Regions from separate parts of the Homo sapiens genome. Here all the other regions are linked to region 2. The links come from fine-mapping of genetic effects on gene expression. A gene starts in region 2. Each other region holds a variant in brackets. All regions are shown on one strand. Distances are between the middles of the regions.

Region 1 (5,000 bases), 180 kb after region 2:
ACATTAGTTGTTGATCTCTTGTTGCTTTCAAGATTTTTTGTCTTTGTCTTTTAACAATGTGACTATGTTGTGTCTATATGTGGAACTTTTGTGTTTATTTTATTTGGATTTTGTTAAGCTTCTTGAATCTGCAAATTGTCTCTCATCAAATTTGGGAGGTTTTCAGTGATTATTTCTTCAAATATTTTTTCTGCCTCTATTCCTCTCTCCTTTCCTTCTGGGATTCCCATTATACATATTTCAGTGCACATGATGGTGGTTCCACACATTTCTGAGGCTCTGATAGTATTTCTTCAATCTTTTTTCTTCTCTGTTCTTCAGAATGGATAATTTCTATTAATCTTCATGTTTTTCTATTGTCTCTTTCATCATCTTAAATCTGCTAATTAACTTACTCAGTTAATTTTAAATTTGTGCATTGTACTTCTCACCAGAAATTCCATTTGGGTTTTCATTATTGAGATTCTCTACTTCTTGTTTTCATATTTTCCTGTAATTCTTTGAATATACTTATTAAAAGGCCTCTGAAGTCTTTGCCTGCTAAATCCAACATATAGCCCTACTGAGAAGCCATTTCTATTGTCTGCTTTTTTTCCTGAGTATGGTCACATTTTACTGTTTCTTTGCATGGCTGTAGTTTTTCTTGAAAGTAGACATTTTTGAATAATACAGTAACTAAAGATTTTAATTTTTGTTTTCTTTTTTTTTGGGGGGGGGGGGGCACAGAGTCTTGCTCTGTCACCCAGGCTGGAGAGCAGTGGCATGATCTGGGCTCCCTGCAACCTCTGCCTCTGGGTTCAAGTGATTCTCCTGCTTCAGCCTCTCGAGTAGCTGGAACTACAGGTGCATGCCACCCTGCCCAGCTCATTTTTGTATTTTTAGTAGAGACGGGGTTTCACTATGTTGGCCAGGCTGGTCTTGAACTCCTGACTTCAAGTAATCCCCCACCTAGGCCTCATAAGTGCTAGGATTACAGGCATGAGCCACTTAATCCATTCTCTCTGACAACAAAGCTTCTGGTTTTTGCACGCAGTGCCACTCTGGTAACAAACTACAGATCTTATCGACCAAGCATGTGGGTACATGTGTATTGGCAAGAAGGCCACAGACTTCCGCTGCTTTTACCTGAAGCTCTATCAATTTTTCAGGAAAAAATATTTCCCAATGTGTGTTTTTTTTTTAATCTTTGGTGAATTTCCAGAGCCCTGATGTAATGTTTTTGACAATACATTCCAGTTTTATACTTGCTTTTTGCAGAAAGATCTGCCTACCTCTTCAAACCAACAGAGCCAGGAGTCTCTCCATCTATGATTATCTGAACTCATCTTTAATATAAATACCTGTATTACTAGTCCCATATTACAGATAAGGAAACTAAGACATACAAAAATCATTCATCTATCTAAAGATTATATAGCTGCTAAATAGAAGAACTTGCAAACTAGGCATTTTGCTTCCAGAGCCTTTATGTACTTTTAATAGACGTAAAAATCCTTAAAATATATATATATATAAAATACGTAAGTACAATAACAGAAGCAGGTACAGGTGCTATGGGAGCATGAAGGAAAGAATCTATTTTTGGAACCTGAGTATAGCATATAGGATATAAAGATGAAGCACCATAGTCCATCATTTATAAAAACACCATGTTTTTAGGGATACAAATATCAGTAAAATTTCCAAATATTTAAGACAGTTAATTGCCATTAAAAACCTTTTAGGAGATTTCTCACTAATGTAACTTACTCTCTTGCCGGTACCCCTTCCCACTGGAGGATGTGCCTCAGCAGCTTGACGAATTGTACAAACCATTAGCTCTATAAGAGCACTCTCTTGACGATCAGACATTGCTAAGGTAAAACAAAATACATGAGCATGAGTAGACAGTTTTACAACAACCATGTATTAAAAATGAACACATTATTAAAAAAACTGAAAACATTCTATTACTGCTTATTTTAAAGACTAAAGTTAAGCTCTGTACTTTGCTATTTTTTTTTTTAAAGTAATTATGTGCTTGCTGTCATAAGTCAAATAGGAAAGAGATACAAAGTAAAGAATAAGAGGATAAACTCTGGTCTCTTCTAATGCTACCTTTCTAAGTTAGGCAATTCTAAAATTTCACAGTGTTTCCTTCTACATAATTTCAAAACTCCTAATTTTTCTTTTTTAATGAAAAAGACTATGCCGTATGTTTTTAAAAACTTAACAGACAATATTTTTCAAGTCAATACACACATAATAATTATCTTAATAAATTACTATCTAACGTATGTACCATAATTCAGTCAGCCTTCTACTTATGGTCATTCAAATAATTTCCTGATTTTTGACACTGAACAATGCTTCAATAAACATCATTAATAGATATATATTTATGTAACTGATACATTTATTTCTGTACAATAAATTCTCCAAAGAAGAAATAATGGATTCAAATGGCAAGACCTTGATATTGAGAAATCATAAGATTATTTATTATAATTTATATCCCCAACTGCAATGTTATGAATGTTTGGTTCCTTATATCCCTGTGAACACTAGATGTTATAAACCATTTTAATTTTTGCCAGTCCAATGGTTGAAAAGGGGTATTTGGTTATTATTTTGCTCCTTCCTATCTACTAATTAGTTAAGTGGAATATATTTTCTATTTTTCCCTAAGATTTGTCTATGTTTATTCTTCACCTGTTTTTGTGCTACTATTCACCTTTCTTATCAATCTGAGAACTCTTGTATGGTAGGGGTAGTACTTTTTATCTTTTGAATGATGCAAGTATTTTCTCCCAGTTTGTCATTTGTTATCAGACTCTTCA[T/C]GGTATCTTCTGTCAGACAGAAATTGTTAATTTTTAAAAAGCCACGTCTGTCTCCTTTTGTTTTATGGCTTCCAGGTTTCTTGTATTGCCTTCAAAGATCTCTCTGTCCTGCAGATTACACTAATATGTTCTTCATTTTCTTCTAATTTATTTCATCTTTTGCTGTCTCGTGTGCTTGCTTGCTCTTTTGCTCTTCCTTCCTTTCACTTTTTCTGTCTCTCTTGCTTGCTCACTTTTGTATTTTTAACCTATTTGGCATTTATTTCTGATGATAGTAGGTGGGTCTGTTTATTCCCACCAAATAGCCAGTTGTCTCCACCACTGTTAAACCAGATTTCCCTTTTTAATTTAAATGTCATTTTTAAACATGGTTCAGGCATTTTTGGATTCTTTAGTTTCACTAATCTATTTGTATATTTCTATGACAATGCTTTACTGCTTTGATTATACTAGACTTATGGCATAATTTGTTATAACTTAATATGTAACTTAATTCAACCAACTTGAATATATAAGCAAGTTTCCCTTATCTAGCCCTTTTTCTAAAATTTTGTTTAATTTCTATAACGCTAATAGCAATTCATTTATTAAGAATTTTCTATATCTAAAGCACGATCATAAGTGGCTTATATGTAATAACTTGTTTTATCCACAAAACATTTCTAAGAGATAGGAACTAATATCCTCACTTCACAGACAGGGAGAATGAGCCACAGAAAAATGCACTTAGCTAGCAGTAGAGCATTCAAATATATGAACTCAGGTAGTTTGACCCCAGAGTCAGTTCTCTTAAGCACTACGCTATACTGTCTTTTCAGCATAAGCTTAGAATTCTACATAAACTTTAAAATCATTTTGCTTAGTTAGTTCGTATTCACCATATCTCCCAGAACTCTCTCAAACCCACTGGAATTATGACTAGTACCATTAAAAAAAATGACATTTTCAGCTAGAAATACAATATAGCTTTTCAGTTTTGAGATCTTAAGTCATTTAATTAAAACTATGGTTTCCTTCACATAGATTCTATACTTTCCCGAATTCTTTTTTTCTTTTTTTTTGAGACGGCATTTCACTCGTGTCACCCAGGCTGGAGTGCAGTGAGGCTATCTTGGCTCACTGCAACCTCTGCCGCCCAGGTTCCAGTGATTCTCCTGCCTCAGCCTCCCTAGTAGCTGGGATTACAGGTGGCTGCCACCGCCCCTGGCTGATTTTTGTAGTTTTAGTAGAGACGGGGTTTCACCATCTTGGCCATGCTGGTCTTGAACCCCTGACCTCGTGATCCACCCGTCTTGGCCTACCAAAGCACGGGGATTACAGGTGTGAGCCACTGCACCCAGCCTGTTTTTTTTGAGACAGTCTTGCTCCATCGCCCAGGCCAGAAGGCAATGGCGTGATCTCAGCTCACTGCAACCTCCGCCTCCCAGGTTCAAAGGATTCTCCTGCTTCAGCCTCCTAAGTAGCTGGGATTACAGGTGTGCCACCACACCCGGCTAATTTTTGTATTTTTAGGAGAGTCGGGGTTTCACCATGATGGCCAGGCTGGTCTCAAACTCCTGACCTCAAGTGATCCACCGGCCTCAGCCTCTCAAAGTGCTGAGATTCCAAGCATGAGCCACCACGCCTGGCCTCATTCTTACATATTTTTAAACTCAGATATTTTTGGTTTTTTTGGAAGTGGAGTCTCACTCTGTCACCCAGGCTGGAGTACAGTGGCGTGATCTCGGCTCACTGCAACCTCTGCCTCCTAGGTTCAAGTGATTCTCCTGCCTCAGCCTCCTGAGTAGCTGGGATTACAGGCATGTACCACCACGCCCAGCTAATTTTTGTACTTTTAGTAGAGACAGGGTTTCACCATGTTGGCCTGGCTGGTCTCGAACTCCTGAGCTCAAGTGATCCACCCACGTCGGCCTCCCAAAGTGCTAGATTACAGGTGTGAGCCCCTGTGCCCAGCCTTAAACTCAGATTTTGATAATTCGAATAGTTTAGTTCTTTCTTTCTCCTTCCCTCTGTATACTTATTTATATTGAAGACCAGTAGATGTAGGTATTATAGACACAGAACTAGGTATAAATTTAAGAATTCAATTAATTTACAAAGGTTTAAAAGTTTACATTGATTATTTTAAACTAAGTTGGAGCAAAATCAAAGAAAAGGCAAAAAAGATACAACATCTTGTTC
Region 2 (6,461 bases):
GGAGGCTGAGGCAGGAGAATCGCTTTAACCTGGGATGGGGAGGTTGCAGTGAGCCAAGATTGAGCCACTGCACTCCAGCCTGAGTGACAGAGCAAGACCCTGTCTCAAAAATAAATAAATAAATAAATAAAAATAAACCTTACAACTCTGAGGTAGAACTATTATTATTCCAATTTTACAGAAGAGGAAACTGAGGCCAAGTTGTCCAAGTCACACAGAGGTAACTGGCAGAGTTGGAACTAACCTCAGGACAGTCTAACACCAATGACTGGGCTCTTGTTATTATGTCATGGGTAACAAACTCAGAACACAAGGGTTTCACAGATCACCCCCTCTCCACTTTTACAGAGGAAACTGAGATCCTTAGGTGAATGACCCTGTGTTATCCAGGAAGTCAGGGCAGAAGCAAGATTTGTACCCAGGTGTTGACTCCAAATTTTCAGCTCTACTGTCTCAGAAAGTGAGAAAACTAAAAGATCAGGGTGACTCCTGTCTCACAATGGAGAAAAAAACTCAAACACAGCCACCAGCGGGGGGACTAAGGACAGGAAAGCAGCCTGGAGCATAGTGGTATTAAAGGGCAATTACTGGATAATTGCCTCCTACCTCCAACTTCCTCCTACCCCCACCCACCTGCCCCAAGCTGGAGCTTGCATGTGAGGTCTGAGGAATAACATTACAGATCTATAGAACTATGGAGTGCCCATAGGCAGGGCATTAGGACAGTGAGAAAGAAGTGGAGGGAGAGAGGACTAGCTGGAGGAAGCAGTTAGGTTCAGTGAGCCTCCCTGTGTTGGGTTTTCTACTAAGCACTGGTTATCTAAAGTTAAATAAGAAAAACTTCCTTGCTTCTGAGGATCAGGATAGACTGCATGGAGGAGATGATACCTGAGCAGGTTTCAGAGCCTGAAAAGACATAGAGGAGGGGGCGAAAACCTCTGGACTCACATGCAATTGCCTATTTGCTAGCTCGATTCAATTTCACAAATACATTCTAAAGGCCTTCTCTGCGTTGGGCCTTGTTCCAGGTGCTGGGACCACAGTGGTGAGCAAATCAGCTGCAGTCCCTGACCTTTGGCTGGAGAGTCTGTCTAGGAAGACAGCTAAACAATCTTAACACAGTGTGAGATGTGCTTTATGTAAGGAACCTACAAGGCACTGTGGGACAAGGGAGTCCAACTGCCCCCAGGCCAAAAGCAAGTCCCAATTTCTGAACATGAAAAAACTCTTCACAATCTAATGCCATTCTCACTTTCCAGTCTCATTTACCACCATTTCCCCAAAAGCTGGGAACACAACAAAGTATGTGTGTGTGTCTGTGTATGTGAATCTGAACATGCCAGGCCTTTGCTCACACTGCTTCTGTTCCCTGGCATATGGATGCTTTCTTGGAGAAACTCTCCTCAACACACTCAGCCTTACTCAAATTCTCTCTTGTGCTCCCAAGGCAATCTGCCTCTCTAGGTTGTCCATCTGCCTCTCTAGGTTGGTAAAGTCTTTAAAGCAAGGACCCAAATGCAAGGTCAAGAGTACCCATTACGGAGTTATACAGATACAGGTGGGCTTTGCCTAGCCAAGAGGCTTTGGCCTCTAAGCTGCCCTCTCTATCTAGATGAACTGTTACTACTCCAGGAAATGCAATCAGTACTGATGTTTAGTTCTTGGCACATGGTAGGTGCTCAAAAATGTTTTCTGAGTTGAATTGCATTAACATTAAGGTCATAGGTCAGAATTTGTACTTTATGAAGGCCCTGGCTATGAGCTGGATCTGGGAAGGGCTCATGATCAACTTTAGCAGTTTTCTGTGGCTAAAAATGAGAAATATAAACCATGTTCTTTGTCTTGAAGACCTGCCTGTTAGTGGGAGAAACAGATGGTCAAGCTCTCAACAGTACAATTCCAAATTCCTAGAGCAGTGGTTCTTAAACTTTAGCAAGCAGATCAGAATCACCTAAAGGTCATCTGCTAAAACAGATGGCTGGCCCCAGCCCCAGAGTTTCTGATTTAAAGGTCTGGAGTAAGTTCTGAGAATTCGAGCTTGCATTTCCAACTCACTCCCAGGTGATACTGAAGTTGCTGGATTGACAAGATTCCCTCCTTGATCAAACATTGGTCAGGCTCTTCTGAGCTCTCTCTTTGACTAGGCCTGAGTGTGGGCTCCCATGTCATTCCTTGTGGAATTCCATTTTAGCAAGAAACTTGCCAAGTCAGTTTAGCCAGAATCCTCCATTCTTGATATCTGATTACTCTCCATATCTGGTTTTGACCCATACCGCCACCATCCCCCAGGTGATGTTCAGTTACCCTGACCTGCCTTGGGCAGGAATCCTGTTAGGTCAATTTAGCCAGATTCCCCGCCAATGTTTCCTCTTAGTAATTTTCCATCCACTGACTTCCACACACTGCCCCTTAGCTATAAATTACCACTTTGCTATATTCAGCCCAATCGCTCTGACTTATGGCAAAACTCTATCCCTACCTCTGTCAGATTGGGCCTGAATAAAGTTTGCCTTACCATTCTTAAACATGAATAATTAAGTGTCATGAATAGTTTTTTCTTTAATGGGATCCATACTTTGAGAACTACTGATTAGAGGTTAAGGGTCCTGTGCTCATTATCTGGCACATATTAATGATAGGTCTCTGAGTTTGAATCCTGGCCAACCACATTGTCAGTCTTGGCTTTTTTTTTTTTTTTTTTTTGAGACAGGGTTTTGCCCAGGCTGGAGTGCAGTGATGCAATCACGGCTCACTGCAGCCTCGACTTCCTGGGCCAAGCCATCCTGCCGCCTTAGCCTCCCGAGTAGCTGGGGTCACAGGTGCAAGCCGCCATGCCCAGCTAATTTTTAATTTTTTTGTAGAGGTGGGGTCTTACTATATTGCTCAGGCTGGTCTTGGGCTCCTGGGCTCACCTACCTCGGCCTCAGTCTTGCCTCTTGATCAAATCACTCATCTCTCTGTGCTTGATTTACCTCATCTGTGAAATCCAGATAGTAAGCTAGTGCATGGTAAGTGCAAAAAGCAACACCTGGCACAATGCTTAATAAATGTTGGTTAAATCTTATAATCATTTTCTGTAGGAAGTGGGACGACAAAGTTAAGGGTCTAGGTGGTCAGAGAAGAGCAAGGACTATGTCCCTTTTTTGTGCAGCCAGGCAGGCCCTGTACTTTTTCTCTGCGCGACCCTCCTCGGGCAGCACCGGGTCTCGAACTCTCACGCCTTACTCCCAAGCAGGTTCTGTAGTCCAGCCCCCGCGGCTCCCTACAGCCAGCCGATGCTGCGCAAGCGCCGTACCCACGCTTTAGCACATGCGTACTCAGGTGCGCCGGTAGGGGACGCGCCGGCACAGCAAAAATGGCGGCGGCATTACGGGTGGCGGCGGTCGGGGCAAGGCTCAGCGTTCTGGCGAGCGGTCTCCGCGCCGCGGTCCGCAGCCTTTGCAGCCAGGCCACCTCTGTTAACGAACGCATCGAAAACAAGCGCCGGACCGCGCTGCTGGGAGGGGGCCAACGCCGTATTGACGCGCAGCACAAGCGAGTGAGTCCTGAGGGGCCTAAGTGAGTCCCGCCCCTGGCGTCCGCGACCTATCACTGCGTGCCCGGCTTGCGGCGTCCGAGGCCTCCCTGCCAATCCGCACGGTGCCTGGAGGGGCCGGAGCAAGGGTGTTCACCTTGAAAACCTGTAGCGTTTCTCGTGGAGGCGGGTATAACCAGCAGAAGCACCTGTGTGCTTTTTCATACTGTTTAACCCTTGGGATTTAGACGGATCTGGCTCGTCTCTAGCCAGCTCAACACTTAACATAAGCTTTTGGGCAACTTATTAAATCTCTGTGGGTCATTTTAATAATAATTCTTCCTTCACAAGTGTATCGTTAGACCATAGATAGCAAAATGATAGGCGCTCAGTAAAAACCATGTGCTTATTCTCGTGCCCCATGAAAGAGTGATGGTAGGTTCTTTCTCCTTTGTGGAAGCAGGAAAACTGAACTTGGGCATACTCCACTAACATGAAATGGGGGATGTGCGCGTGCAGGAACTTGTGGAACTTCTGCCCGCAGAATGCCTGGTCGAGCTCTTTAGGGCCTTAGCATGCCTCGCCTTGATGGGTAGCAAAGGCACGTGTCGGAAGCAGGTGGCCTTTCTGGGAGTGCGCAGGCTACTCTCGATGTTTGGCTGGACTGAGCAGTTGAAACACTGCCACCCACCGCCTGGGTTTTGAGGCGAGAATCCAGCTGGCCTTCAGAGATAAGCTGGGCGGCCCATTTTGGAGAGGTGATCCCTGACTTGAAACCAGGCTTGCCCAGTGTGTCCGTGACTGGTGGGTGAGTCTGGACCGTTGTGCTGAACGAATTAACCAACGGGAAGGTGCAGAAGTGAAACTCTTACAGATGAAGAGTATTCAGGCACAACTCACAACCATGAGGGAGGCACTGGGGGAGGGATGGGGTCTTAAAGTGAGGAGATTTGAACAGCTCTATATTTGTCTAATATTGATTCAGATGTCATAAATTCGCATTTGACAAGGGTCCAAAGGTAACAGTTCCTTTTGACACTTGAGAGTGAAATGTAAATTTAGTGATGGTTTGTGGTGCTAGGAGTGCTTTCTCTCCCCTGGGGCTACTTCTAACCTACTCTGTTAGGGCTGAGGGAGATGTTAGATCATCCTCTGGAAAGGCCTGTCAGTGCTCCTGTACACTCTTTCTGTTGGGGCCTATTGCTCAATTCTTCCCTGGAACATCGCCTAGCCCTTTCCCAGGTAGATCCTACTAGGTTTAGATGAAGCCTCCAGAAGCTGTTTTTCTTTTGCCAAAGTTAACTTAGGAGGCTGATTTAATATGAACCCCCTCCTGCACCCCTTTTTATTTTTATGTTTTGATACGGAGTTTTGCTCTTGTTGCCCAGGCTGGAGTGCCATGGTGCGATCTTGGCTCATTGCAACCTCTGCCTCCCAGGTTCAAGCTATTCTCCTGCCTCAGCCTCCCAAGTAGCTGGGATTACAGGTGCCCACGACCATGCCTGGCAACTTTTTTTTTGTATTTTTAGCAGAGACAGGGTTTCACCATGTTGGCCAGGCCGGTCTTGTACGCCTGACCTCAAGTGATTCACCCACCTTGGCGTCCCAAAGTGTTGGGATTATGGGTGTGAGCCACTGCACCCGGCCCTGCACCCCTTTTAAAACAATTTTTGACCATTTCCGTAGATTTTCCCAGAAGAGGAATTAGTGGGTCAAAGGGTGTAAGTTTATTTATTTTTTTTGAGACAGAGTTCACTCTGTTGCCCAGGCTAGAGTGCAGCAGCTCACTGCAACTTCTGCTTCCCAGCTTCAAGCAATTCTCCTGCCTCAGCCTCCAGAGTACCTGGGGTTACAGGTATGTGTCACCACATCTGGCTAATTTTTGTATTTTTAGTAGAGATGGAGTTTCACCATGTTGGCCAGGCTGGTCTTGAACTCCTGACCTCAGGTGATCCACCCGCGTCTGCCTCCCAAAGTGCTGGGATGACAGAATTTTTTTTTTTTTTTCCTTGAGACAGGGTCTTACTCTGTCACCCAGGCTGGAGGGCAGTGGTGTAATCATGGCTCACTGCATCCTTGACCTTCTGGGCTCCAGTGATCCTTCCACTTCAGCCTCCTACCCAGCTAATTTTTTTTTTTTTTTTTTTTTGGTAGAGACAGGGTCTCGCTTTGTTGCCCAGGCTGGTCTCAACTCCTGGGCTCAAGCAGTCCTCCCACCTTGGCCTTCCAAAGTGCTGGGATTACAGGTGTGAGCCGCAGTGCCTGGTCAGTATAAATATATTTTAAAAATCTGTATATATGTTGCCAAATTGGTTTCCTGAAAACTTACTCTACTTTACATGACAGTGTATAGGATTGCCTGTTTTTTGTTTTGTTTTTTTTTTTTTAAATGCAACCTCACCAGCTTTGGCTACTTTCCTAAGGGGAAAATAATAGCCAATTTGAGGTATTTTTTGTTTGTTTTTGTTTTTTTCGGGGAGGGGGGGATAGGACAGTAGGCTAGGGTATTTGCCTCGGGTTGAGAGCTTGGGAGTCCAAGCAATGGAGGTTTTTTTTTTTTTTTTTTTTTTTTTAAGATAGAGTCTTGCTCTGTCACCCAGGCTGGAGTGCAGTGGCGCGGTCTTGGCTCACTGCAAGCTCCGCCTCCCGGGTTCATGCCGTTCTCCTGCCTCAGCCTCCTGAGTAGCTGGGACTACGGGTGCCCACCACCACACCTGGCTATAATTTTGGAGTTTTAGTATAGACGGGGTTTCACCATGTTAGCCAGGATGGTCTCGATCTCCTGACCTCGTGATCCGTCTGCCTCGGCCTCCCAAAGTGTTGGGATTACAGGCGTGAGCCACTGCACATGGCCTCTTTTTTTTTCTTAAGACAGGGTCTCACCTTGTTGCTCAGGCTGGAGTGCGGTGGAGTGATCGTGGCTCACTACAACCTCTGCTTCCCAGGT
Region 3 (5,000 bases), 310 kb after region 2:
GCAAAGGAATTGGGGTATTTATACACTAACTCCCGGTCAGTCACTTGTTAAAGCCATGGTGCCCAAACTGTGCACTGAGATGTCCTGAGGGACTCACACAAAATGATATGGGTAATGTGGATATTTTAAATATTCAAAGGAAAACAATACAATATTTGATATTTGTCAAGTACCACAGGAACTATTAGCATGAGGCAACTTGCAATCTCAACATCTGGTCCTTTATTCCTGTTGATAATGCCCTATCTTTGAGAGGCTGAGTTTCAACAAGGGCTATCAAAAAACCAATATAAAACAGGAAATGAAGATAATTTCAAAATGTGAGAAGCTATACAATGCCCAACACATCTGTACACACATTAGTAAGTAACTGCAGTTATTTGAGACATGAATACAATTTTTTTCAATTATGTATGTCATTTTCTAAATGGCTACTAAGTTGTGAGGACCTAAATAAATAGTTTGGACATAACAACTTCCTGAAAAGAATGTTAGGTATTTCTTTTGGCTTACAGGTGCCATGAAAAAATCACTGAGATGCTAATTAGCCAGCGAACTGGGTTAAGTTCAGGAACTCTTAGATTAAGTGCTCCTAGGTGATTAATTCTCTGGCAATTCTGCACTCCTAGAAAGCCCTGAGGCATCCGGAACTTCTCTGTTAGGCACAAACAGAGCAAAATAGAAACATTCCTTGTTATATTCAACTAAGAAAGAAGGTTGCTTTTAACCACCAACTTTCAAGTTTGATCAACAACCCTTATTAAAAATAGGCACATCTGTCAATGAAAACTACTTATCAAAAACCATATATTTCTGAAATTAGTTATGTTTAAGTACATACCAAAGTAAATATGTACGTGTATCAACAAGGTATACTTTGAATATATGGAGAACATATCTTCATTTTGCTATGCATAATTCCCTGAATACATGCTATAATTCTGTGTTCTTAGTTCTCTCATAACTTATTCCAATAAACACTTATGAATTTACATAGCTTTAGAATGCAACTCTAAGTCAACAGTGTTTAAATCAACTTTACCTTTGCATTTTTCCCACTTCATTGATACTGAATATATCTATTACTACTACATATTGAGTTAGCCAATTCTGAGGTTTCCAATGGTAAACAGAATTCACTCCAGCTGGTTCAAATGAAGAGACTACAGACGTTTCAGCAGAGTTAGAAAAACAACTATGGGTGCTAATGCAACTTGAGATAGCTAAATTAGAAAACCAATACTGCACCTTAGGGCTTGGCTCAAGAGCCAAGATGAGAAAATAGTGATAATAGGGATACTGGAGCCAATGAAGGAGGAGTTGTTCATACTATTCACTCATGAGAAGATGTTTCACTTTGTTCTGTCATTGTTGGTGATACCACTTCTAGCCGGGAACTTGGGTGGGGACGGGGCGAATTGTGATTTTTTTTTTTCCTGCCTTTCCTTGCTCTCTTCCCACTTCAGGTCAATTTTTAAAACACTCTTTTGGTCCTTGGTTCTTACGCAGCTTTAGGGGAAAATGGGCTCACACAGTAAAATGCCAATCTAGATTTTGGATATTAATGTGCAAGACAAGGAGTCCTTATAAAATGCAAATCTTATCTCAACATATATTAGAGATAGCAGCCTTTGTAATACAAAAAAATTTCCCCCACTTGTCCCTTGTCGTTTGACTTTCCCTATAATGTGTCTCCATCTTACAAATTTTTTGTTTTCTTATGTCATTTATGAGTCTTTGCTAACTTATAGATTTTGAGTCAGTTAATTGTGAGTCAGTTAATAAAAAGGTCTTCCCCACTCCGTGGTTATAAAGGAATTCTTAGTTTTCATTGAGTGCTTTTACTATTTTTCTTTGTATTTGTTGTTTGTTTTTGCCCTTAAACTCTTGATGCACTGGAAATTTATCCTGGTTTACACCATCACAGTGAAATGTAAATCTGAAAGAATTTTCCCCCTCACTTTTGTCTTGAAAAGGAGGTCTTTAAATCTTCTAACTGGCTGTAGGATAGTAATTTTTCTCTATAAATTCTGTATCTCAATATATTATGGAATTATTTTATTGCTTATAATAGTTTTGCAAACTGATTCTCCTGAGTTTTCTAAACATGCTATATTATTTTGAATAACATCATTTTAAAAACAGTGATCATAATTACTTTTTATTGTCCAAATGTGTTGGCTTGCATATCCAATATAATGTTAAATAAGAATTGTGAGGCTGGGTATCCTTGTCTTGACAGTGACAATGACTACTGATTTCCCTTGAGCATGACGCTGGCTTTGGGGTTAAAACATTTTTTTTTTTTTTCATTTTTGTACTTTGACATAATTTTAGATTTACAGAAAAGACAGCAAAGTACAAAGAACTTCTGAATACCTTCCACCCAAATTCTTCAGATGTAAACATTTACATCCGTTTTATCCTTCTTTCACTCTTCATATACAGATGCATTTGTTCTGAATAAGTGTTTAGCTACAGACATGATATTCCTTTACTCTTTAATATTTCAGTGTGTATTTCCCCCAAATAAACCTATTATACAACCACAGTATAGTACAATGTTCCAAAGCATAAGATATAACAATTGATACTACATGTATGTTCTAATCCACAGAACTAATTAAGATTTCACGTGTCTCAATAACGTCCTTTATGCCAAAAGAAATTCTAAGATCATGCACTGCAGCCACCTGTCACATTTCTTCAGTCTACTTTAAACAGTTTCTGAGTCATTTCTTTTT[CT/C]TTTTTTTTTTTAGACAGAGTTTCGCTCCTGTTGCCCAGCCTGGAGTGCAATGGTGTAATCTCAGCTCACTGCAACCTCCGCCTCCTGGGCTCACGCGATTCTCCTGCCTCAGCCTCCCAAGCAGCTGGGATTACGGGCACCCACCACCACGCCCGGCTAATTTTTGTATTTTTAGTAGAGACGGGGTTTCACCACATTGACCAGGCTGGTCTTGAACTCCTGACCTCAGGAAATCTGCCCAAAGAAATTCTAAGATCATGCACTGCAGCCACCTGTCATGTTTCTTTACTCTACTTTAAGCTAGAACAGTTTGAGTCATTTCTTTTTTTCTTTTTTTGAGACAGAGTTTTGCTCCTGTTGCCCAGGCAGGAGTGCAATGGTGTGATCTTGGCTCATTGCAACCTCTGTCTCCTGGGTTCAAGTGATTCTCCTGCCTCAGCCTCCCAAGTAGCTGGGATTGCAGGCGCCTATCACCATGCCCAGCTAATTTTTGTATTCTTAGTAGAGATGGGGTTTCACTACACTGGCCAGGCTGGTCTTGAACTCCTGACCTCAGGTGATCTGCCCGCCTCAGCCTCCCAAAGTGCTGGGATTACAGGTGTGAGTCACGACGCCCAGCATTTCTGACTATTTCATGACACTGACTTTTTTGCAGAGTACAGGATAGTTGTTTTGAAGAATATAACTCAATTCAAGCTTGTCTTATGTTTCTTCATGAGTAGATTCAGACTATGCACTTCTGGCAAGAATATCACAGAAGTGATGTTGAGTTCTTCTAAGGGCATATCAGAAAGCACATGATAGCAATTAGCTCCGTAACTTGCAATGTTTGCTTTTATCATTTGTTAAGGTGCTATCTATCAAGTTTCTACATTGCAAAGTTTCTATTTTACCCTGTAAATAGTAGATATCTTGAAAGGAGACATTTTGAGACTGGGTAAATATTGTGCTCTTCATCAAACTTCTCCCCGACCCCACTAGTTTCACAGCCCACTTACTGAGTTCCCAAGTTACGTTGGTTAGTAATTTTACACCTTTCAGTGTGGTTGTTATTATGGTGTAAAGGTTATTTGTTCTGTTTGTATTCATTTTTAGGATATTCTCCCTCCATCTTTGTTGATTTTGTTTTCTTGGGGATTTGAAATATTAAGATAGCTCCAAAAGTCAGGACTATTCAAAAACTATAAAACTATATTCAAATTCAGTATCATTCCCTCACCTCAATTCCCTCTAAACTTTCCGACACACACACACGCACGCACGCACAAACTCTCTCTCTCTCTCTCTCGCTCTTTAGGTAACCAATCTCGTTACCGTCAGGTTTTTCTTTCCTGTATTTCTTTTTGGTGAAATGAACCCTTATATTCCCTTCTTTCTTACAAAAAAAAAAAAAAAACAACAACAACAAAGTTGCATACTGTAGATATTATTCTGCAATTTGTATTTTGCCCTAAAAACATATCCAGAGAAAGGCCGGGCACGGTGGCTCATGCCTGTAATCCCAGCACTTTAGGAGGCCAAGGCGGGTGGATCATGAGGTCAGGAGTTCAAGACCAGCCTGATCAACACGGTGAAACCCCATCTCTACTAAAAATACAAAAAAACTTTAGCTGGGCATGGTGGTGCGTGTCTGTAATCCCAGCTACTCGGGAGGCTGAGGCAGGAGAACTGCTTGAACCCAGGCGGCGGAGGTTGCAGTGAGCCGAGATCGCACCACCGCACTCCAGCCTGGGTGACAGAATAAGACTGTCTCGAAAAAAAAAATACAGGGAAAATCCCTACTTCCATTCACAGACATCTTCCTCATTCTTTTTTACAGTAGCACAAAACTCCAACATGTGGCTATCCTATAGTTCATTCAATCACTGTCTTATATATGAACATTTGGATTGTTTCCAATATTTTCCAGTAACAAATAATGTTGCATTAATTTTGTGTACCTATTTTCTTACTGCTGAAGGTATATATTCAAGGTAAAATCCCAGAAGTAGGATGGTTGAGTCAACAGATAAGACATAAATATAGATTTGGTAGATATTCCTGGATACCTTTACAAAAGAGTTTATCAATTTGTATTCTAACCAACAATGTAACAGTGTCTGCTTTCCCCCGCCACAGCCTGAACAACAGAATGTTGTTATGATTTTAAACTTGTGCCAATCTGATAGGTAAAAAGAAATGGTAACTAAGTATAGTTTTAATTAGTAAATCCCTTTTGTAATAAGTAAAAAATGTTTTCTTTTCATATGTTCTA
Region 4 (6,461 bases), 24 kb after region 2:
TAGTTTGCAAATATTTTCTCCAGCTCTGTGAGTTGGCTCTTTGCTGATTACTTCTTTTGCTGTGCAGAAGCTTTTTAGTTTAATTAGGTCCCATTTATTTTTGTTTTTGTTGCATTAGCTTTTGGGGTCTTAGTCATGGATTTTTTGCCTGGGCCAGTGTTCAGAAGAGTTTTTCCAATGTTGCAGAATTTTTATGGTTTCAGGTCTTAGATTTAAGTCTTGGAAGTCTGGTAATGTGATGCCTTCAGATTTGTTCTTTTTGCTTAGTATTGCTTTGGCTATCTGGACTCTTTTTTGGTTCCATATAAATTTTAGGATTGTATTTTCTAGTTCTGTGAAAAATGATGATGGTAATGGTAGTGTTTTGATGGGAATTGCATTGAATCTGTAGATTGCTTTGGGCCATATGATCGTTTTCACAATATTGATTCTTACCTCCATGAGCATGAGATGTGTTTTCATTTGTTTGTGTCATGTATAGTTTCTTTCAGCAGCGTTTTGTAGTTTCACTTGTAGAGATCTTCACCTCCTTGGTTAGGTATATTCCTAGGTATTTTATTTTATTTTTTGCAGCTGTTGTAAAAGGAATTGAGTTCTTGATTTGATTGTCACTTTGGTTATTGTTGGTGTATAGCAGAGCTATTTATTTGTCTATATTAATTTTGTAACCTAAGACTTTACTGAATTCCTTTATCAGATCTAGGAGTCTTTTGGATGAGTCGCTAGAGTTTTCCAAGTATATATGATCATATCACTGATAAACAGTACTTGTTTGACTTCCTCTTTTCCAATTTGGATGCCCTTTATTTCTTTCTCTTGCCCAATTGCTCTGGATAGGACTTCCAGTACTATGTTGAATAGAAGTGGTGAAAGTGGGCATCCTTGTCTTGTTCCAGTTTTCAGGGGGAATGCTTTCAACTTTTCCCCATTCATTACGATGTTGGCTGTGGGTTTATCATATATTGCTTTTACTATTTTGAAGTATATCCCTCCTATGCCTAGTTTGAGAGTTTTTTGTCATAAAGAGATGCTGGATTTTATTGCATGCTTTTTCTGCATGCAATTGAGATGATCATATGGTTTTTGTTTTAAATTCTGTTTACGGGATTTATCACATTTATTGACTTGCATATGTTAAACCATCCCTGCATCTCTGGGATGAAACTCACTTGATCATGTTGTATTATCTTTTTGATGTGCTGTGGGATTTGGTTAGCTAGTATTTTGTTGAGGATTTTTGCATCCATGTTTATCAGAGACACTGGTCTGTAGTTTTCTTTTTTTAATGTCATTTCCTGGCTTTGGTATTAGGGTGATACTGGCTTCATAGAATGATTTAGGAAGGATTCCCTCTTTCTCAATCTTTTGGAATAGTTTCAGTAGGATTGGTACCAATTCTTTGAATATCTAGTGGAATTCAACTGTGATCCATCTGGTCCTGGGCTTTTTTGTTGTTGGCAGTTTAAAATTACTGATTCAGTCTCACTGCTTGTTTTTGGTCTGTTCAGGGTTTCTGTTTCTTCCTGATTTAGAGGATTGTATGTTTCCACGAGTTTATCCATTTCCTCTAGATTTTTCAGTTTGTGTGTGTAAAGATGTTCATGTTAGTCTTGAGTGATCTTTTGTATTTCTATGATATTGGTTATAATATTTCCAGTTTCATTTTTCATTGAGCTTATTTGGATCTATTCTCTTCTTGGTTAGTCTAATGGTCGACCAATTTTGTTTATTTTTTCAAGGAACCAAGTTTTTGTTTTATTTTTTGCTTCAATTTCCTTTAGTTCTGCTCTGATCTTTGTTATTTCTTCTGCTGGCATTGGGTTTAGTTCGTACCTGTTTCTCTGGTTCATTGAGGTGAGACAGTAGATTGTCAGTTTGTGTTCTTTCAGACTTTTTGATGTATGTACTTAAAACTATGAACTTTCCTCTTAGCACTACTTTTGCTGTATCCCCAGAGGTTTTTATAACTGTGTCACTACTATCATTCATTTCAAATTTTTAAATTTTTATCTTGATTTATTGTTAACCCAGAAATTATTCAGGAGCAGATTATTTAATTTCCATGTATTTGTATAGTTTTGAGCATTTCTTTTGGAGTTGTTTCTAGTTTTGTTCCACTGTAGTCTGAGAAGATACTTGATATGATTTCAATTTTCTTAAATTTGTTGAGACTTGTTTTGTGGCCTGTCATACAGTCTATCTTGGAGAATGTTCCATGTGTTGAGGAGAAGAATGTATATTCTGCAGTTGTTTGGTAGAATGTTCTGTAAATATCTGTTAAGTCCATTTGTTCTAGGGTATACTTTAAGTCCATTGCTTCTTTGTTGAGTTTCTGTCTCAACAAAAAGAGTCTAGTGCTGTCAGTGGAGTATCGAGGTCCCCCATTTCACTTTGTTGCTATTTCATTTCCTAGGTCTAGTAGTAATTGTTTTATAAATCTGGGAGCTCCAGTATTAGGTGAATATGAATTCAGGATTATAATATCTTTTTGTTGGATTGTTCCTTTTATTATATAATGACCTTCTTTTTCTTTCTTTTTTTTTTTCTTTTTTCTTTTTTTTTTTTTTTTTTTTTTACTGTTGTTGCTTTAAAGGTCTATTTTGTCTGATATAAGAATAGCTACTTTGCGAGGCCAAGACGGGCGGATCGCGAGGTCAGGAGATCGAGACCATCCTGGCTAACACGGTGAAACCCTGTCTCTACTGAAAATACAAAAAATTAGCCGGGCGTGGTGGCGGGTGCCTGTAGTCCCAGCTACTTGTGAGGCTGAGGCAGGAGAATGGCGTGAACCCAGGAGGCGGAGTTTGCAGTGAGCCGAGGTTGCACCACTGCACTCCAGTCTGGGTGACAGAGGGAGACTCTGTCTCAAAAAAAAAAAAAAAAAAAAAAAAAGAATAGCTCATTCTGCTTGCTTTTGGTTCCCATTTGCATGGGATATCTCTTTCCCCCCCTTTACCTTGAGGTTATATGAATCCTTATGTGTTAGATGACTCTCTTGAAGACAGCAGATATTTGGTTTGTGATTTTTTAAAAATCCATTCTGCCATTCTGTATCTAAGTGGATCATTTAGGCCATTTACGTTCAACATTAATATTGAGATGTGAGATACTGATCTGTTTATCATTTTAGTTGTTACTTACTTTGTTTTTTTTTCATTGTGTTATTGTTTTATAGGCCTTGTGGGTTTTATCTTTCAAGAGGTTTTATTTTGGTGCATATTGAGCTTTTGTTTCAAGATGTAGAACTCTTCTGAAGAGTAATGCTGGTTTGGTAGTGGCAGATTCCCTCGGCATTTGTTTATCTGAAAATGGCTTTATCTCTCCTTCATTTAGGAAACTTAGTTTTGCTGGATGCAAAATTCTTGGGTGGCAGTTATTCTGTTTAAGGAGGCTAAAGATAGAACCCCAATCCCTTCTAGCTTGTAAGGTTTCTGCTGAGAAATCTGCTGTTAGTCTGATTGGTTTTCCTTTATAGGTTACCTGATGCTTTTGTCTCATAGCTCTTAGGATTCTTTCCTTCATGTTGACTTTAGATAGCCCGATGACTATGTGCCTTGGTGATAATCTTTTTGCAATGAATTTCCCAGGAGTTCTTTGAGCTTCTTGCATTTGGATATTGAAATCTCAGGCAAGGCCAGGGAAGTTTTCCTCAATGATTCTCTCAAATAAGTTTTCTAAACTTTTAGCCTTCTCTTCTCCCTCAGGACCACCA[A/C]GTATTTTTAGGTTTGGTTGTTTTACATAATCCCATATTTCTTGGAAGCTTTGTTCATTTCTTCTTTCTTTTTTTTTTTTTCTTTCTTGAGATAGGGTCTTACTCTGTTGCCCAGGCTGTAGTACAGTGTTGTGACCTTTGTCTCCTGGGCTCAGGCAATCCTCACACCTCTGCCTCCTGAGTATCTGGGACTACAGGCACATGCCACCACTCCCGGCTAATTTTTATGTTTTTTTTGTAGAGATGGAAATTTGCTATGTTGCTCAGGCTGGTCTCAAAGTCTGGGCTCAAGCAGTCCACCTGCCTTGCCCTCCCAAAGTGCTAGGATTATAGGCATGAGACACTGACCCCAGCCTATTTATTTCTTTTGATTCTTTTTTCTTTATTTTTGTCTGATTGGGTTAATTTGAAAGCCTTGTCTTGGAGCTCTGAAATTCATTCTTTGACTTGTTCTGGTCTATTGTTGAAACTTTCCATTGCATTTTGTATTTCCCTAAGTGTGTTTCATTTCCGGAAATTCTGATTGTTTTTTCTTTATGATATCTATGTAGAAAATTTTTCCTTCATATTCTGAATTGTTTTTTAAGTTTTTTTTTTATGTTGGTTTTCACCTTTCTATGGTGTCTCCTTGAGTAGCTTAATAATCAACCTACTGAATTATTTATCTGATTATTTCAAATATTTCGTTTTAGTTTGGATCCATTGCTGGGGAGCTAGTGTGATCTTTCGGGGGTATGATAGAACCCTGTTTTGTCTTATACCAAAATTACTTTTCTGGTTCTTTCTCGTTTGTGTAGAGTATTTCTTCTAATTGTTCTTGAATTTATTTTTGATTTGGCTGTGGTTTTTTTAAGTTTCTTTTTCCTCTTCACTAAGGATGTGACTTTAGTGTTTATAGTTTATTATAGCCTAATGTGATTCTTAATGCTTTTAGGGGGAAGACTGTATGAGTTCCTTGGCTATAGAGAGTCTTTGTATGATGGCTTCTTTAGATGCTGGTTGTATTTATTTATTTATTTATTTATTTTTGTTGAGATGGCGTCTCGCTCTGTCACTCAGGCTGGAGTGCAGTGGCACAATCTTGGCTCACTGCAACCTCCACTTCCCGGGTTCAAGTGATTCTCCTGCCTCAGCTTCCCGAGTAGCTGGGACTACAGGTGTGCACCACTACGCCTGGCTAATTTTTGTATTTTTAGTAGAGACGGGGTTTCAGGATGTTGGCCAGGCTGGTCACAAACTCCTGACCTCAGGTGATCCACCTGCCTTGGCCTCCCAAAGTGTTGGGATTACAGGCGTGAGCCACTGCCCCTGGCCTGTATTTAATAGATATGTACTTGATGTGTGGGCAAGTTCACTGTCTCCTATGGGGTTGAGATGGAAAGGTCTCTTGAAGCTCATCTCATTCCCCTGTGGTGTGTGCTTTTTTATTTATTTAATTTTTCCCCTGTATTTTATTTACTAAGTTGATGGTTAAGGCTTCAGGCCAGTAGGGGAGCTGTCCCTGGGTAGGAACCAGTTGTGGCTAAAGCAAATGGGTAAATGCAATACTCAGTAAGGCAGAGAGGTTCCACCCTTGATGAAAGTGGCTGGGGGAACTCTCAATTAGATGCACTGAGGTCTTATCAAGGGGAAGGGTGGGAGCCACCTCAGCTCCTTTGCCAGGCCAGTAGGAAAGCTATTCACCTCCCAGACTCGCTCCTGCCCTAGTGTTCCAGCTATTCGGATCAGACAGGCATCTCTTTTCATCTGTAGGACTGTTGTTGTTCCACACAGAGAGGAATTTGTGACTCTGCCTCTCTTGCAAGCCTGAACTTGGGCCAGGGCGGGGGTGGGGGTTGGGGGATTCCTCCTGTGGAGATGCAGTCACTCTGTAGTGTTCCAGGAAGGCTGTCTATAGGTTCACCTTTGCCAAGCTCCTGTGGAGAAGCCCCAACTGTGTCTGTGTAGTGGTGGACAAGGTGGGAGAGAAGATACCTTCTCCAGGACCCTTCATGAGCAGCAAAGCTGCCTGATTGTTGGGGTAGAGCTGCAGACTTTCCCTTCTGAGCCCAGCACTGCAATTGTGTCTCTGCTGAAAGGAACTTCCCATCAGTGGAAAGATCTGGAACTCAAGGCCTGCCATCTGAATTCTTTTGTCCCATGGGGTATTCCCTTGGTGTGGTGGTCTCCTCCTTCCCTTAGGAGTAAGAATTCCTGAGAGCCAGGATAAGTTGATTGCTATTCTTCTGGGTCTAGCCACCCAGTGGGGCTGCCCAACTCCAGGCTGGTGCTGGGGAATGTCTGCAAGGGATCCGGTAATGGGACCTGTCCTCAAGTCTCCCAGCAAGGGATATACCAACACTAGTGCTGATGGGAGTGTCAGGTGAGTGAGGTAGACTCTTTGAGGTTCCTTGGTTACAGAAAGCCTTAGTGTGCTGGCTTTCTCGAATGCTGGTTATAATAGTAGTGAACTGGTCACGTGGACAGATGCAGGACCTCCTGGTTAGCCAGGGTTTTGCAGGCAATGATGATAGCTTAGGTCATGCACTGGTTTTCTCCTTTCTGTTCACAGTGTTATTCTACCTAGAGATGCTGTAGTGGACTGTGTTGGTTGGCATCCAGCCTGGAGGTAGCGTTTACAAAAGGGCACCAGCTGCAGTAGTAGCAGTGGGATTCGAGCTTGTCCTGTGTTGCCCAGGAGGTATTCTGGTTTCTCAGGTGACAACGGGGTCCATAAAGCTGCCAAAAGTTTCTGTCCTTTGTATTAAGT
Region 5 (6,461 bases), 110 kb before region 2:
CAAATTAAAACCTCAGTGAGATATACTACACAGCCACTTGAACAACTAAAATCACCAGTTGGCAGTAATGTGGAGAAACCAAAACTCTCATACATTGGGCTGGTAAGGATGTAAAACTATACAGCTTCTTTAGAAAAGTTTGGCAGTTTCTTAAAAAGTTAAACATACATTTGGCTTATGAATCAATAATCTCACTCCTAGAAATCTACCTAAGAGAAAAGCTCACCCAGTGTTCATAACAGCATTATTCCTAGTAGCTCAAAACTGGAAATAATCCACATGTCCATCAAACTGGTGAACTGATAAAGCAAAATACATCTTTTCATGAGAGACTTTCAAGCAAGGACAAAAATAAATATGTATATATATATATTTTTAAATATATGTATTTTTTATAACATTCCACCATATGATGGTGAGCTGAGATTGTGCCATTGCACTCCAGCCTGGGGAACAAGAGTGAAACTCCATCTCAAAAAAAAAAAAAAAAAAGAAATTTACTAAAATGCACTGAACACTTAAAATTGGTAAAATCTATGGTATGTAAATTAACCTAAATAAAGCTGTTTTTAAAAAAGCAAGAGCCAAAAAACTTCAGCTTATTAAATTGGCAGCAATTTTTAAAACATAAGTTTTAAGGATAATATTCAATAAATGTTTGCATTACTACTGTATATTAAGCATTATTGGATACTGGCAAATGCAAGACAGGATGGGAAGACAGACAGATGCAGTTAAAATATAGTGTCTTCACTGCTGTCTCATAGAAGAAACAAATTGCAGAAACACCTCACTCTAGGCTTACTGCAGGAAGACACGCACTTTCAAACATTGCTGGTAAAAGCATATTGCCCCAGTGTCCCTGGAAAGTAATTTGACAATATGTAGCAACAACTTGAATTTATGCCCTTTGACTCCCTGATAGTAATTCTGAGTATCTATTGTAAATAATCAGAAATTTGGATAGAATTGTGTAATCTAAACAATTGGCACTGGTCACAGGTAATTCTAAAATAAATTCAAAGCAACACAAATGTTCAATATAGAATGGTTAAATAAGTCATGGTATCTGTGTCATAACATGCAGCTATTGAAATGTACTTGAAAATTTTTAATTTCATAGAAAAATCCAGATTACAAAATTGTGATATAATCTCAGTACTTAAAATGTGTGTATGTATATACACAAGCTAAAAGATAACACCCCAAAATATTAACAGTCATTAACTCTGGGCTGTGGAATTGCAAGTAATTTGGTTTTTTATACTGTTCTATAATTTATAAAGGTTCATGTAATGAGCGTGTACTGTATTACTTTAACAAATGGGAAAAAATTATTTTTCTCCTTTATCTGTTTATATAGGTAATACATGTTCATTGCAGAAGAGTTAGAATATAAACAAAAATCTACACCTAAAATTCACCACCCAAAGACAGGCTGTTTTATCACTTTGGAGTATACCCTTCTATACATTTCTGTGCAACTAGATCATGTATTTTACAAAAAATATTACTATTGTTTTATAACCTGCTTTAAAGGAAGAAGAAATAGATAGCAGATCTAAACAAATAGACATGTTCATCTGAAAAGAGAAACTAGTGGCATCTAAAGAGAATAAATAATTGGCTCAAGCGAAAGTTTTTTTCAAGTTGTGGTAGCACTGAGAGAACGTGCCAGTGGAAGGAAGAAAGAGGAGGCAGGGGGTTGCAGACAGAAGCACAGGTGAGGAGGGGTCACAAGAGGAGACGCAGAGACCAGCTGGAGTGAAATTCAACCGTTGTATATGAGAGGCTCTTGCTGCTTGCTGGATACCCCACTTCTGTTGTGGGAGATAAGATAAGGCCTACACAGAACACATGTGGGTTATGAGGTCCCAAGGGGCAAGGAGGCTTACAACAGCCACAGTCTATAGAGCAAGCACTAGAATGTGAACAAAGGAAAGGAAAGGAAAAAGCCCGTTTACAGGAATAACAACTGACCAACTCGTGCAAAAGCAAGGCCAGACCTAAATTCCCAAGGCTAAATCAACTAGGGTTTCATCTCAAGAAAGAATCACAGATATGTCAGGGAGAGTCTAATTGTCAAACAGAAATTGCCAGACTCAGGTATCAGAAAGGGAGGAATGTTAGTACCACAGAAAGACCAGAGGCTTAGGAGCCAGACAGATCTGGTCCACTCACCAGCTGGGCAGGTTACTTGACTCCTGAGGCTCAGTTTCAGAAGGCATCAGCATCCACTTCCTGAGGTGGTTGTGAGAATCTAAGATATTATATGTAAACACCTGGCACATGGCTCATGATAAATAGTAGCTATTACTACTCCATATAGGAGAAATACAATGTAACATCATGGGCCCACTGCAGTGGCTCACGCCTGTAATCTCAACACTTTGGGAGGCCGAGGCAGGCAGATGAGGCCAGGAGTTCGAGACCTGCCTGGCCAACATGGCAAAACCCCATCTCTACTAAAAGTTAGCTGGGCGTGGTGATGTGTGCCTATAATCCCAGCTACTTGGGAGGCTGGGGCGGGAGGATCATTTGAATGAACCTAGGAAGGAGGTGGAGGTTGCAGTGAGCTGTGATCATGCCATTGCACTCCAGCCTGGGCAACAGAGCAAGACTCCGTCTCAAAAAAAAAAAAAAAAAA[AAAAAAAAAATTATATATAT/A]ATATATATATAAAAAACATCATGGTTAAGAGCATGAAATTTGAAGTTAGACGAACCTAACTTCAAATCCTTGCTTTATCACACAAGCTGTGTAATCTCAGGCATCCAAGCCTCAGCATCCTCTATAAAAATAAGGGTACGACTTGGCACACTGAGCTGTTTTAAGGATTAAATAAGACAGTGTATATAATATAAGGCCCTTAGGCATAGTGTCTGTGTAATCAATAAACAATGGCTATTTATTGCTACCACTTTTGTGATCACATTACCTAACCTCTCTGAAGTAGAGTTTATTCAGCTGTAACATTAGCATTCTATCCCTTATCTTGTTCCCTTCACTCCTAGGGCACATTTTACTGCTTGACACAGTAAATATCTGTTGCATGAACAGCAGGATTGTACTGAGAATTAAGAGATAATGTATATAATGAATCTAACAGTGTCTGGTATATTAATGCTAAAAAAAAATGGAGCTATTTGTTTTACCATTAGATTGTGAGCTCCTCAGGGGCCAAGAACGTTTTCTTAGTCTTGTAGTCCCAGCACCTGGCAAACTGTTACGTAGGAGGTCCTCAGCAAATGTTTACTGAAAGGCACAGACCACAGCAATACAGCAGCCACCCTCACTACAAGGATATCTACAGTAGTCCAGATGATTTGGCCCTCCAAAAACAACTTAAAATCCTCCACCTACTTTACCATCTAACAACAATCACAGGTAGCCATTGTGCTAAGCATCTGTACCTCCTGATTTCAAGACTGGTACTTATGTAATGTCTTCAGTAAGTAACCTCGTAATCACTGCAGGTCTCAGTGAGGTGAAGCAAGACCAAAGCTTCCGTAAGTATGAGGCTGTAAACATTGCAAATTAACATGTCTAGCACACAAAGTGATCACAGCATACAACAGCATTTATATAAACTCAACCCTCGTAAGAGAAGCCAGAAAGACAGGGTACCAGTTACTTAATCCAAGTCAACTAAATGTGTTACCTATATGAAGATAACAGGTTATGATACCATATTTATAATTAACATTCTTATGGTTTATGCAATGGAGTACATTAAAAACACCACAGAAATTATGTAAAGAAGGCTAAAGGGTCTTCCATGTTACTATCCTAAGAAACTGAGACCCTCAATAATCAGAAACAAGCTTTTCTGCCAATTTGACTAATACTTGAAAAAATGGAAAATATAAAGAGATTAAAATCACTCTTGGTTCAATGATCCAGGGATAACCATTATTTTATACTTGGTATATTTCTTTTTAACACTTGTTACTAATGTGTTCAAAAACAGGAATTTTAGTGCTTCAGTGTTCTCAAGCAGTAACTCACATCCATTTCCCTATTATTGGACATTTGGGCAGATTAGAACTGTTTTCTATTGAATGTTTTTAAAGGCAGCTTTTTCCTTTATATTAAAAATATATGAATTACTCTGTCAGAGATTTTTTTTTTTTTTTTTTTTTTTTTGAGATGGAGGCTCGCTCTGTCGCCTAGGCTGGAGTGCAGTAGCGCGATCTCCGCTCACTGCAAGCTCCGCCTCCCAGGTTCAGGCCATTCTCCTGGCTCAGCCTACCGAGTAGCTGGGACTACAGGCGCCTGCAAGCACACCCGGCTAATTTTTTGTATTTTTAGTAGAGACGGGGTTTCACCGTGTTAGCCAGGACGATCTCGATCTCCTGACCTCGTGATCCGCCCACCTGGGCCTCCCAAAGTGCTGGGATTACAGGCGTGAGCCACCGCGCCCGGCCTCTGTCAGAGATCTACATTTACATCCATCAGCACTGGAAACTAAGGCACTATAGGTAAAGAAAGCCAGCCAGAAACCCATTAGAGCAATCGTCCAGGAATGTAACTAGTGAGAAGTATGAAGCCCAACTCTCCTCAGTGAGGTGGGAGAATGTAGGAGAGGAACAGGGAAACAGGGAGAATGGAGGCTTGTGTGTATATATTAGGGTATAGGGAAAGAAAAAGAAGGAATGACATGAATTAATATTCTAAAACATGAGTTATAATATTACAGATATATGAGTTTAGAATTATTTTTTAATGCTTAATAAACAGAGCCTCTACGTGGGCCTGAAGTTAATGTTTTATTTTTTTCCACATTGAACGAACCATATCAAAGCCCAATTTTAATTTATTTCAACAGATATTTACTGGTACCTACTCTATGCCAGGCACTGTGCTTGGTAATAAACATGAATTCAGACCGCGTCCTTCCAGTTCATAATTAGAATATATTTAGCCCACATTTTTATGCTGTCTACATCCACAATGAGTAAGAATTAACAGTTGATAGCTCATGATTCTGAAGAACTGCAAGAGTTCCTTTAACCATCAAAACTGAAGTGAAATCTACTTCCTGGGACAGGAAAGCAAGTGGTACATATTAGGAAACTTCAACAAGAGTTGAAACTAAAGATTTTCTGGTCACTGGATGGGTTAAGGAAATTCAGTGAACCAAATATCCAACTTCCAAAATTTCAGCTAATCCATTTTATATAAGTGGCTTAGGATATCTATTTTTAACTTAAAAGTATAAAGATAAATCACACACTTGTATTTCTGAAGCATTATAGACTCCAAACTAGAGAAATATTGAATTTTTTTTTTTTTTTTTTTTTTTTTTTTTTTTTTTGAGACAGTTTCGCTCTTGTCATCCAGGCTGGAGTGCAGTGGCACAATCTCAGCTCACAGCAACCTCCACCTCCCAGGTTCAAGCGATTCTCCTGCCTCAGCCTCCCGAGTAGCTGGGATTACAGGCATGCACCACCACGCCCAGCTAATTTTGTATTTTTAGTAGAGACAGGGTTTCTCCATGTTGGTCAGGCTGGTCTCGAACTCCCAACCTCAGGTGATCTGCCCACATTGGCCTCCCCCAAAGTGCTGGGATTACAGGCATGAGTCACCATGCCAGGCCAAAATATTGAACATTTTATTCTATGCCTATAGGTACCATGTGTCTTAGATATGCCCAGATAATCCCTGAATCAAATATTCTATTCCTTTGTCCCTGTAAATAGTCAGAATCCTGGAAACTGGAATCAAAACATAACTCCCAGACAACACCCTGAAACTGCATACAATCCTTTGTCAAACAATTTATGTCCCAGTCATTATCTCTGCTCATTCCAACTTTTATATTTCCATCCCAGGAATCTGCAGAGCCCGCCTTAATGCTTTTGCCCAGAAACTGCTCATCTGAAAGGGAAGACTTACTTAGGGAAGTAAGTTTCTAAAGGCAGTGGTGTTGCTGGCCAAATTACATGAACCACCATATCCCCTCATGCTAACAAAACTATGTTAGAGAATTTGTTCTCAGGCTAGGTGCGGTGGTTCACACCTGTACTCCCAGCCCTTTGGGAGGCCGAGGGGGGGGATCATGAGGTCAGGAGATCGAGGCCATCCTAGCCAACATGGTGAAACCCCATCTCTACTAAAAATACAAAAGTTAGCTGGGCATGGTGTTATGTGCCTGTAATCCCAACTACTCACGTGGCTGAGGCAGGAGAATCGCTTGAACCTCGGAGGCAGAGGTTGCAGTGAGCCGAGATCACGCCACTGCCCTCCAGCCTGGTGACAGAGCGAGACTCCATCTCAAAAAAAAAAAAAAAAAAGAGTTTGTTCTCAGCTGGGCATGGTGGCTCAAGCCTGTAATCCCAACATTTTTGGAGGCCGAGGCAGGCGGATCACCTGAGGTTGGGAGTTCAAGACTAGCCTGGCCAACATGGTGAAAACCCTATCTCTACTAAAAATAAAAAAAATTAGCTAGGTGTGGTGGTGCA

Direction of the effects. Positions count from the first base shown, and alleles are read on the strand shown. Sizes are in standard deviations (SD) of each study's normalised expression. Not every link is listed here.
In carriers of allele AAAAAAAAAATTATATATAT in region 5, the expression in monocytes after LPS of the gene that starts at base 3,320 in region 2 tends to be lower than with A alone (small effect, 0.36 SD a copy in Fairfax 2014).

The links. PIP is the estimated chance that this variant, and not a neighbour inherited with it, causes the effect.
Region 1: its variant is the best candidate, but not a certain one, in a credible set for the expression of PCCB in whole blood (INTERVAL, PIP 0.78).
Region 3: its variant is the best candidate, but not a certain one, in a credible set for the expression of PCCB in whole blood (INTERVAL, PIP 0.73).
Region 4: its variant is the best candidate, but not a certain one, in a credible set for the expression of PCCB in whole blood (INTERVAL, PIP 0.86).
Region 5: its variant is the best candidate, but not a certain one, in a credible set for the expression of PCCB in monocytes after LPS (Fairfax 2014, PIP 0.69).

Annotation. Positions count from the first base shown.
Region 1 is chr3:136,431,807-136,436,806 of GRCh38, forward strand. It overlaps STAG1 (STAG1 cohesin complex component), which reads right to left. Exons shown (of 34, transcript NM_005862.3): 16 at 1,750-1,853. Among named protein-coding and RNA genes, the nearest start is that of PCCB, 180 kb to the left of the region's middle. The variant T/C (reference allele first, on the strand shown) is at 2,820.
Region 2 is chr3:136,247,021-136,253,481 of GRCh38, forward strand. PCCB (propionyl-CoA carboxylase subunit beta) reads left to right here and starts at 3,320. Exons shown (of 15, transcript NM_000532.5): 1 at 3,320-3,538. The coding sequence starts at 3,356. RefSeq lists enhancers at 2,959-3,825, 3,055-3,114, 3,745-3,794.
Region 3 is chr3:136,559,522-136,564,521 of GRCh38, forward strand. All of the region lies in intron 5 of STAG1 (STAG1 cohesin complex component), which reads right to left. Among named protein-coding and RNA genes, the nearest start is that of STAG1, 190 kb to the right of the region's middle. The variant CT/C (reference allele first, on the strand shown) is at 2,745.
Region 4 is chr3:136,271,045-136,277,505 of GRCh38, forward strand. The region is part of intron 5 of PCCB (propionyl-CoA carboxylase subunit beta); the gene reads left to right. Among named protein-coding and RNA genes, the nearest start is that of PCCB, 24 kb to the left of the region's middle. The variant A/C (reference allele first, on the strand shown) is at 3,713.
Region 5 is chr3:136,133,417-136,139,877 of GRCh38, forward strand. The region is part of intron 13 of PPP2R3A (protein phosphatase 2 regulatory subunit B''alpha); the gene reads left to right. Among named protein-coding and RNA genes, the nearest start is that of MSL2, 60 kb to the right of the region's middle. The variant AAAAAAAAAATTATATATAT/A (reference allele first, on the strand shown) is at 2,648.